2 linked regions of the Homo sapiens genome follow. The protein of the gene in region 1 purifies or fractionates together with the protein of each later gene. This does not show direct contact. Each region holds a gene or a part of one and is shown in the gene's direction. Other genes may lie near its edges.

The links.
Region 2: the proteins of ODAD2 (region 1) and OMA1 purify together in Homo sapiens (affinity purification with mass spectrometry; one large-scale study listed by BioGRID and IntAct). This does not show direct contact.

What each region holds. Positions count from the first base shown.
Region 1 is NC_000010.11:27,992,325-27,996,150, reverse strand, and holds part of ODAD2 (outer dynein arm-docking complex subunit 2), read left to right. Parts: intron 1-427; exon of another isoform or gene 428-502; intron 503-539; exon of another isoform or gene 540-970; 5' UTR 971-1,008; coding exon 1,009-1,232; intron 1,233-1,758; exon of another isoform or gene 1,759-1,842; intron 1,843-3,826.
Region 2 is NC_000001.11:58,536,484-58,540,309, reverse strand, and holds part of OMA1 (metalloendopeptidase OMA1, mitochondrial precursor), read left to right. Parts: intron 1-999; 5' UTR 1,000-1,015; coding exon 1,016-1,515; intron 1,516-3,568; coding exon 3,569-3,797; intron 3,798-3,826. UniProt on the Homo sapiens protein: Metalloprotease that is part of the quality control system in the inner membrane of mitochondria. Activated in response to various mitochondrial stress, leading to the proteolytic cleavage of target proteins, such as OPA1, UQCC3 and DELE1.

The sequences.
Region 1 (3,826 bases):
TTATCTGCCAAAAAAGCATTAAATGTTCATTATGAAGTCAGAACGTGCTTTCTAACTTGGCTCTTATTTAACGTTACAGATTTTGTTACTTTTTAAAAGATCTTCTTTTACAGACTAATTTCTATTTAGCCAATGTGAAATTTGTCTCACTTGAATTGGTTTTAAATTTTACTGCTAGACTCTTCTGATAACTAATTTAGATAAAAAGGCTGAAAGAGTCTCACTTATTCCTACATCTCTCACATTAACTCTTAAGAAGGTTGTGAATTACAGTAAAATGTCATCTGGGCAGGATATACAGGCAGGGAAAATAGTATTTGGATTGTCCAGATATTCTGGTAATAGGATCAATGTGTCCTGTATCAATTTTTAGAAAAAAAATTATATTTCACAATACTGTTCTTATTCTATTTCTTTTTTAACTCAGAATGCACTTGGGGAAACCAGAGCTACCAGAATCATGTTCTTCAGTCATCATTGTGATGATGCAGATATTGTCACTGTAAGAAAGTCGGGATAACAGTATTCAGTTTAATAGTGTAATTCTAAACAATGTGTGTCCTGGCTGAAAGGAATGTTTGTCCCTGAAACTGCTGGCTCCCAACAGAGCTGTGAACAAAAGCCCTTAATATAAACCTCTTCCACTTCCTTTTTTTTCCACTCTTGGAGTTTTCTATTTGGGTTTTATGCCTATCTGTTTGAATCCTCTCTCTTAGGCCCTAGGGAAATTAGAAAGAAGTTATTAATTTCAGGGCAAATACCGGAAATTTCTTAAATACTAGTCAGTTTTATCTAGTGCTGGTTTACTACTTCATTGAACTGAAGAGCAATTAGATAATGTTAAAAGAATCTTCCAAGATTAATAAGCAGAATGTGGGATGGGGAGTACTAGTTTAAAGTCTTGAGAATGAAAAATGTTCCAAGGAAAAGGTGGACGCTGTTGTCTCTTTCTCTTTCTGCTCTGATGTAGTGCGTGTGCTAAGCTCAGGTCTGAGCACGGTGGATCCCATGGGTGTGGCTCTGAGGAAATTGACGCAGTGGACTGCTGCCGGACATGGAACTGGAATCCTCGAAATCACCCCTCTAAATGAAGCGATATTGAAAGAAATTATTGTGTTTGTGGAGAGTTTTATCTATAAACATCCTCAAGAGGCAAAATTTGTTTTTGTGGAACCACTTGAATGGAACACAAGTTTGGCGCCCTCAGCATTTGAATCAGGTTATGTTGTCAGGTAAGCCAGTTACTTGCTTCTAGGATTTGATATCTTCGTTGTACATAGTATTATCAATTGGTTCTAGGTTTGGGGGCAAGTCACCTAACCTCTCTGAACCTCAGAAGCCCTCTAAACCAGGGAATGAAAACCAGAGACACACAGGTGAAGTCTGAGGATATTCAGCTTGGCCAACACAGTATCTTTCTAAGTTTTAAATTTTTCAAATTAAACAAAATTTTAATTTTTGTGGGTAAATTTCTTTTAACAGGGCATCCGTTATCCAGGTCACTACACTGCCAACATCCATTGCTGCTTTATGCCTGGCCTTTCCACCCATATGTGGAGATATATATACACATATATATACTTTTTACAGATGAGGTCTCACTATGTTGCCCAGGGTGGTCTCAAATTCCTGGCCTCAAGTGATCCTCCTGCCTCAGCCTTCTACAATGCTAGGGTTACAGGCATGAGCCACCACACCAGGTCATCCATATTCTTCTGAATTTTATTTCTATAAATGTATGGGGTACTTCCGTATTACCTGCCAGATGCCAGGAGCCATTGGTTTCGTGACCTCTGATGTAGATGAAATCTCTTCTGGTATTTAAATTGATCAATTCCTGGGCTAGAAGCAGGAGGCGGCGGGGAGGGGTGATGAATGATGAATTTTGATTTTGCCCAATATAAGGGAGAGAATTCTTAAGAATTACTGGTGTCCTCAGATTAGAGCCTTTCAAATCTGAGATGAAAAAAAATTTACTTCTGTCTCAAACAGTGAACTCTCAATCTATCTCATTCAAACATGGCTAAAATATATATATACACACACATACGCATAAATTATGTGAACAAATTAAATATAATTGTATAAGAATGTATTAGTTCATTAAGCATTATAATTATACAATAAGTAAGCTAACAAATACACACACACACACACACACACACACACACACACATATATATATATATATTTGCCAGCCTCAGTTTATTTTGCACCTTAGGCATTCTATTTTCTACCACCTTGTTCTTCTTTGTTCTGGATATGAACTTTTAAAGTCTGATCATATAAAAACAGTTCCCTAGCTAGCCAAAGCTTCCTGTAGATGCCTTTTCCCTTTTCTCCCTTTGGGATTATTTGTGAGAATAAAGTCAGAATTTCATTTTTAGAACTGCAGCAAAACCATTCTTAAACTGTATTTCAAAAGCTCTTTAATTCTTCTATTGGTCAGCCTTCTCTCTGAGTTGTTTGAAGTCATATTTATTTATTTATTTTTTTTTCTGGAGACAGAGTCTCGCTCTTTTGCCCAGGCTGGAGTGCAGTGGTGTAATCTTGGTTCACTGCAAGTTCCACCTCTCTGGTTCAAGCAATTCTCCTGCCTCAGCCTCCTAAGTAGCTCGGAATATAGGCATCCGCCACCACGCCTGGCTAATTTTTTGTATTTTAGTAGAGACGGGGTTTCCCCATGTTGCCCAGGCTGGTCTTGAACTCCTGAGCTCAGGCAACCCGCCTGCCTCAGCCTCCCAAAGTGTTAGAATTACAGGTGTGAACCACCACGCCCGGCCTGAAATCTTATTTTTCTAATGGTGCATTTTATTTCTAACTGTGCCAGTGGTAACTTTCTCCAGAAGTTGTCATTTCTGTATTGTTCAGCTTTTTTCCTAAGCTTTGAAATATGATCTCCTACGTAAAACAAATTAAAAACATATTAACTACTTGGCTGATCATGGTGGCTCACACCTGTAATCCCAACGTTTTGAAAGGCCGAGGTGGGCAGATCACCAGAGATCAGGAGTTCAAGACCAGCCTGGCCAACATGGTGAAATCCTGTCTCTACTGAAAATACAGAAATTAGCCGGGCATGGTGGCACGTTCTGTAATCTCAGCTACTAGGGAGGCTGAGGCAGGAGAATTGCTTGAATCTGGGAGGTGGAGGTTGCAGTGAGCCGAGATTGCACCACAGAACTCCAGCCTGGGTGACAGAGAAACTCCATCTCAAAAAAAATTAATATTTTTTTATAAAAATGCATTTAAAGCAGATGACAGAAAAGAATATCATGATTGTTTTGCCTTTGTACAAATTTTGTGCTCCAAGCACAAACGTGATCACATCTGACCCCTAGTTAGGTGGGCTGTGACACACACCTCTCAAATCTATCACTATTTCCCCCTATTCTTGTCCAGATTCTTTTTGCCTTATTTCCATTCTTATATCTCAGCACACAGTTATTTATGTATTTATTTAAGACAGGGTCTGGCTCTGTTGCCCAGGCTGGACTGCAGTGGAGTGATCATAGCTCACTGCAGCTCAAACTCCTGGGCTCCATGGATCCTCCCACCTCAGCCCCTCAAGCAGCTAGGACTATAGGCACATACTACTATGCCTGGTCAATTTTTCTATTTTTTTGTAGAGACAGGATCTCACCATGTTGCTCTGACTGGTCTTGTACTTTTGGCCTCAAGAGATCCTTCTACCTTGGCCCCCTGAATTGCTGGTATTTCAGACCTGAGCTGCTGTGCCCAGCTCTGCATGCAGTCTTTATGCACAGTGTTCCCTCCTGAGAAGGGCATTTTGACATTTTGAAACAATTACCCCTTGATTTTTATA
Region 2 (3,826 bases), on another chromosome or scaffold:
TAATACCTGTTTAGATTTTTTTTTTTTCCTGGGATGCAGTTGTTGCTTGGAAGCATTTAATCTTTTTGGGGGTTGCTTTTAATATTTGTTAGGTGGGGCCAGAGCAGCTTTCGGTCTCAGACTAATCTTTCTCTAATGTTGAGGCAAAACCCTTCTGAGTACTCTACCCACGAATGATAAGGTTTTCCACTTTGAATGGTGGGGAGGGGATAGGCAGTATACCATGCCCTGTGTGAGCCCTGTATATTATTCCCTGCAATCTTTTCAGGTGGCCCTTTCCCAGCTCCAGGGAATTTTCTTACACATATGCCCAGACAGGACTCAGCTGAATATGGGAGGGGGATTCTCTGCAGAACTCTAGAGTTATTTCTCTGTGCAGCTCTTGTCTTCTCTTGTCCTCTGTCCTGTGAGCTCTAGCAACCTTGGTTTACTTGACCTCCCAGCTTTATCTCTTCGATTTAGGGGAACCACTGGGCTCCACCTAGGTTTACCCTGTCTGCATTGTGGCCTGGAAGCACTCTCCAGGCAATAAGCTAGGACAGTTGTAGGGCTCTGTTTCCCATCTGTTAGGGATCACTGTTCTTCATTGCGTAATGTCCAGTGCATTTTATAAGTTAGATTTTACTATTCTGTATCACATGCTTCCTTCCAGTTATTGCAAACTGATAAAGTTTTACTGTTGTTTTTATCTAATCCACTTTATTGCTCAAATCATTTGCCATTAAAATACAAATGGCTCTTCCCTAACTAAAAATTAAAAATGAAATGAAAAAAATTCAAGCTTCTAAAGTAAACGTTGCATAGTAAATATCGTGGTATATATACTCTGGTTTATCTTGCTGAAAGGCGTTGCTCTAGGGGTGATGAGTTGAAACCCAAGGTAATTTAGCCTGAGATGTGTTAGAAGAACAACTGACACGCCTATTTAATAAGTGTTATAGTCCCAGTTTGGTAAGTAAATATTTTCCACAGATATTTATAGTTTTTTTTTTGTTTCAGGTAGTCAAGTGAAAAAATGAGCTTCATCTGTGGATTGCAGTCTGCTGCTAGAAACCATGTTTTCTTCCGATTTAATTCACTGTCTAACTGGAGAAAATGTAACACATTAGCATCCACCTCACGGGGCTGTCATCAAGTACAAGTTAACCATATAGTAAATAAGTATCAGGGACTGGGAGTAAATCAGTGTGACAGGTGGAGTTTTCTGCCTGGAAACTTTCATTTTTATAGTACTTTTAACAACAAAAGAACAGGAGGCCTCTCAAGTACCAAAAGTAAGGAAATTTGGAGGATTACCAGCAAATGTACTGTATGGAATGATGCTTTTTCAAGACAGCTGCTAATAAAAGAAGTTACAGCAGTCCCTAGTCTGTCAGTATTGCATCCTCTAAGCCCTGCTTCCATAAGAGCTATTAGGAATTTCCATACTTCTCCACGGTTTCAAGCTGCTCCGGTTCCTCTCTTGTTGATGATTCTTAAACCAGTACAGAAGTTATTTGCAATCATTGTAGGCAGGTAAAATGCTTTTTTAGAATAAAAACTTTTATATTAACTTTTTGCATTAATATTTTGTGCTAACGTATTAACTTTTAGAAATTAATTTTTTTATTTATAAAACTGTACTTTTAAAGAAACCTTGCCAGATCCCCTGTCTCCCCCCATTTAGCTCAAAGTGAAGTTTCTAAACAGTAGGTCCTGCCCAATTTTGTTCTGTATGATTTAATAATCTTGAAACAATTTCCTGCATACTAATTTATGGTATAGAAATATCTCTTTAAAAAGTTATTCTTACATTTTGTATAGGCATTAAAAAAATCTTATATTTATGACTACAAAATCTTAGGATATATGGATCAGAAGTGCTGGTTATCACTTATGTATAAGAAGAGTACTTACAAACATTTCTTTTTAATTTGTGGAATTTAAGGCAGCAAATCATAAAATTGAGGAACTTTGCTTATATAAGGGTGGGCTCACTCCTAGTTAACTCTTAAGTCATTAATGCTTCTTTTCTTTCTATTCTGTTCCCAACAAATCTTTGTTTTTTTCCTTGGTGATCCTTTATAATAATATTTTCACAGCTTGTAGTGCTTTAACCCTTTTTCTCTTGTTTGTTTTATGAAGATGGAAGAAAGCTAATCACTGTTTCTTCATAAAGCTTTCTTGTGTTTGATGACTGTGAAGTCCCTTCTAGCCTTCTTACTACCACATGAACCAAACCAGTTTGCTTTTGATCAAAAACCAAGAACTTCTATTTGTAACTTATTGTGTTTTTCATGATTTGGTGTTGGCACCCAAAAGCGATACAGCTGTATTGACTATTGGTTGAAGTAATACGCTCATCCCAGGTTCTTCGGATGCTCTTTCTGATTTCTGCTATGTCCTCATCCTTTTAAATTATTTATTTGTAACTTTCTTGTTTTTGTTACTATTGTTGATCACCTAAAATTTTTCATTTAGAATATGTCTTTCATACATTTTAAATAAAGGATAATGTCATGTAAAGTTTTAAATAGGAAATAAGTATACTCGATAGTTTGATTTATGTCCCTTTAAATGGACACACTTTGTGTAAAGGCATTGGGGTGTGTCACTTCACAAAGAGAACTTTAAGAATTTGTAAAATAAATTTTTGTCAAGAGAATGATGTATATATGGTAAATTTTTGTTGTGATTTTACAGATCAACTCATAAGGAAAATTTTTGTCCCAGTATTGAAAACATTGCTTGTTGTCAAAATGTTTCTGAACACTGCTAAGTGGCAGAGAGTATTGTTGCCTGGTAGAAATTGGACCTTCTCAGATGTTATCTATAAAATCTCCCACTTTCTTATGAATACCTAGGATCTTGTTATCTCTCCTTTTTCACGTTGTAAAGAGGATAGTGGAGTTTCTGCTACTGAGCACTATTTATTTCCAAAATGAATGCTGAGGCAGTTTCCCTTGTACCTTGTGGAATCACTGGCAAATTGTGTTGGAGGTCTGAGGAGCAGTGGGAAAAGTAGTGGTTCCAGGTATAGATTTATTGTACTGTAACCTCTTACATAATTATTTAGGCATTTATCCCTATTAAGTGGCTAAGTGGTCAGACTCTGGAATGTCATTGCCTTCATTGCTTGGTTTTCCTTTTATTACCTCAGTGGCCATGGACAAGTTACCTAACAATTTTATCTTCTGTAACAGGGTTATTATGAAGATTAAATGAGATGGTATATATATATATACAGAGAGAGAGAGAGAGAGAGAGAATTTTGCATGTACTAGATAGTAATAAATATTAACCAGTGGTAGTTATAGTAAACTAGCATCTCATTTAGTGTTTATCCTTAAAATAGCTGAAGAAGAAAATTTCGATGAGTATTAGAATTTTTTAACTGTAACTTTACATCATTGATTATTTTTTCATCATTTAGCTAAGAATTTTATTAATTGGAAAAGCGATGTATTCAGCGAAATACATCATACAAATTCAGGTATTTGAGGACGTAAAATTCTAGTGTATGCATTTGAGCTTTAGTGATATGTGCTGGAATGATTTTCAGAACTTTGAATTTTTCTTTTTGCTTTAGGGGCATAAGGAAATGGTGGCAGGCACTTCCTCCTAACAAGAAGGAAGTAGTTAAAGAAAATATAAGGAAGAATAAATGGAAGCTATTCCTTGGTTTGAGTAGTTTTGGATTGCTCTTTGTGGTGTTTTATTTTACTCACCTGGAAGTAAGTCCAATCACAGGAAGGAGCAAGCTACTATTATTGGGGAAAGAACAGTTCAGACTTTTATCGGAACTGGAATATGAAGCAGTAAGTAGTAAGAGTTGTTTTTAATTAGA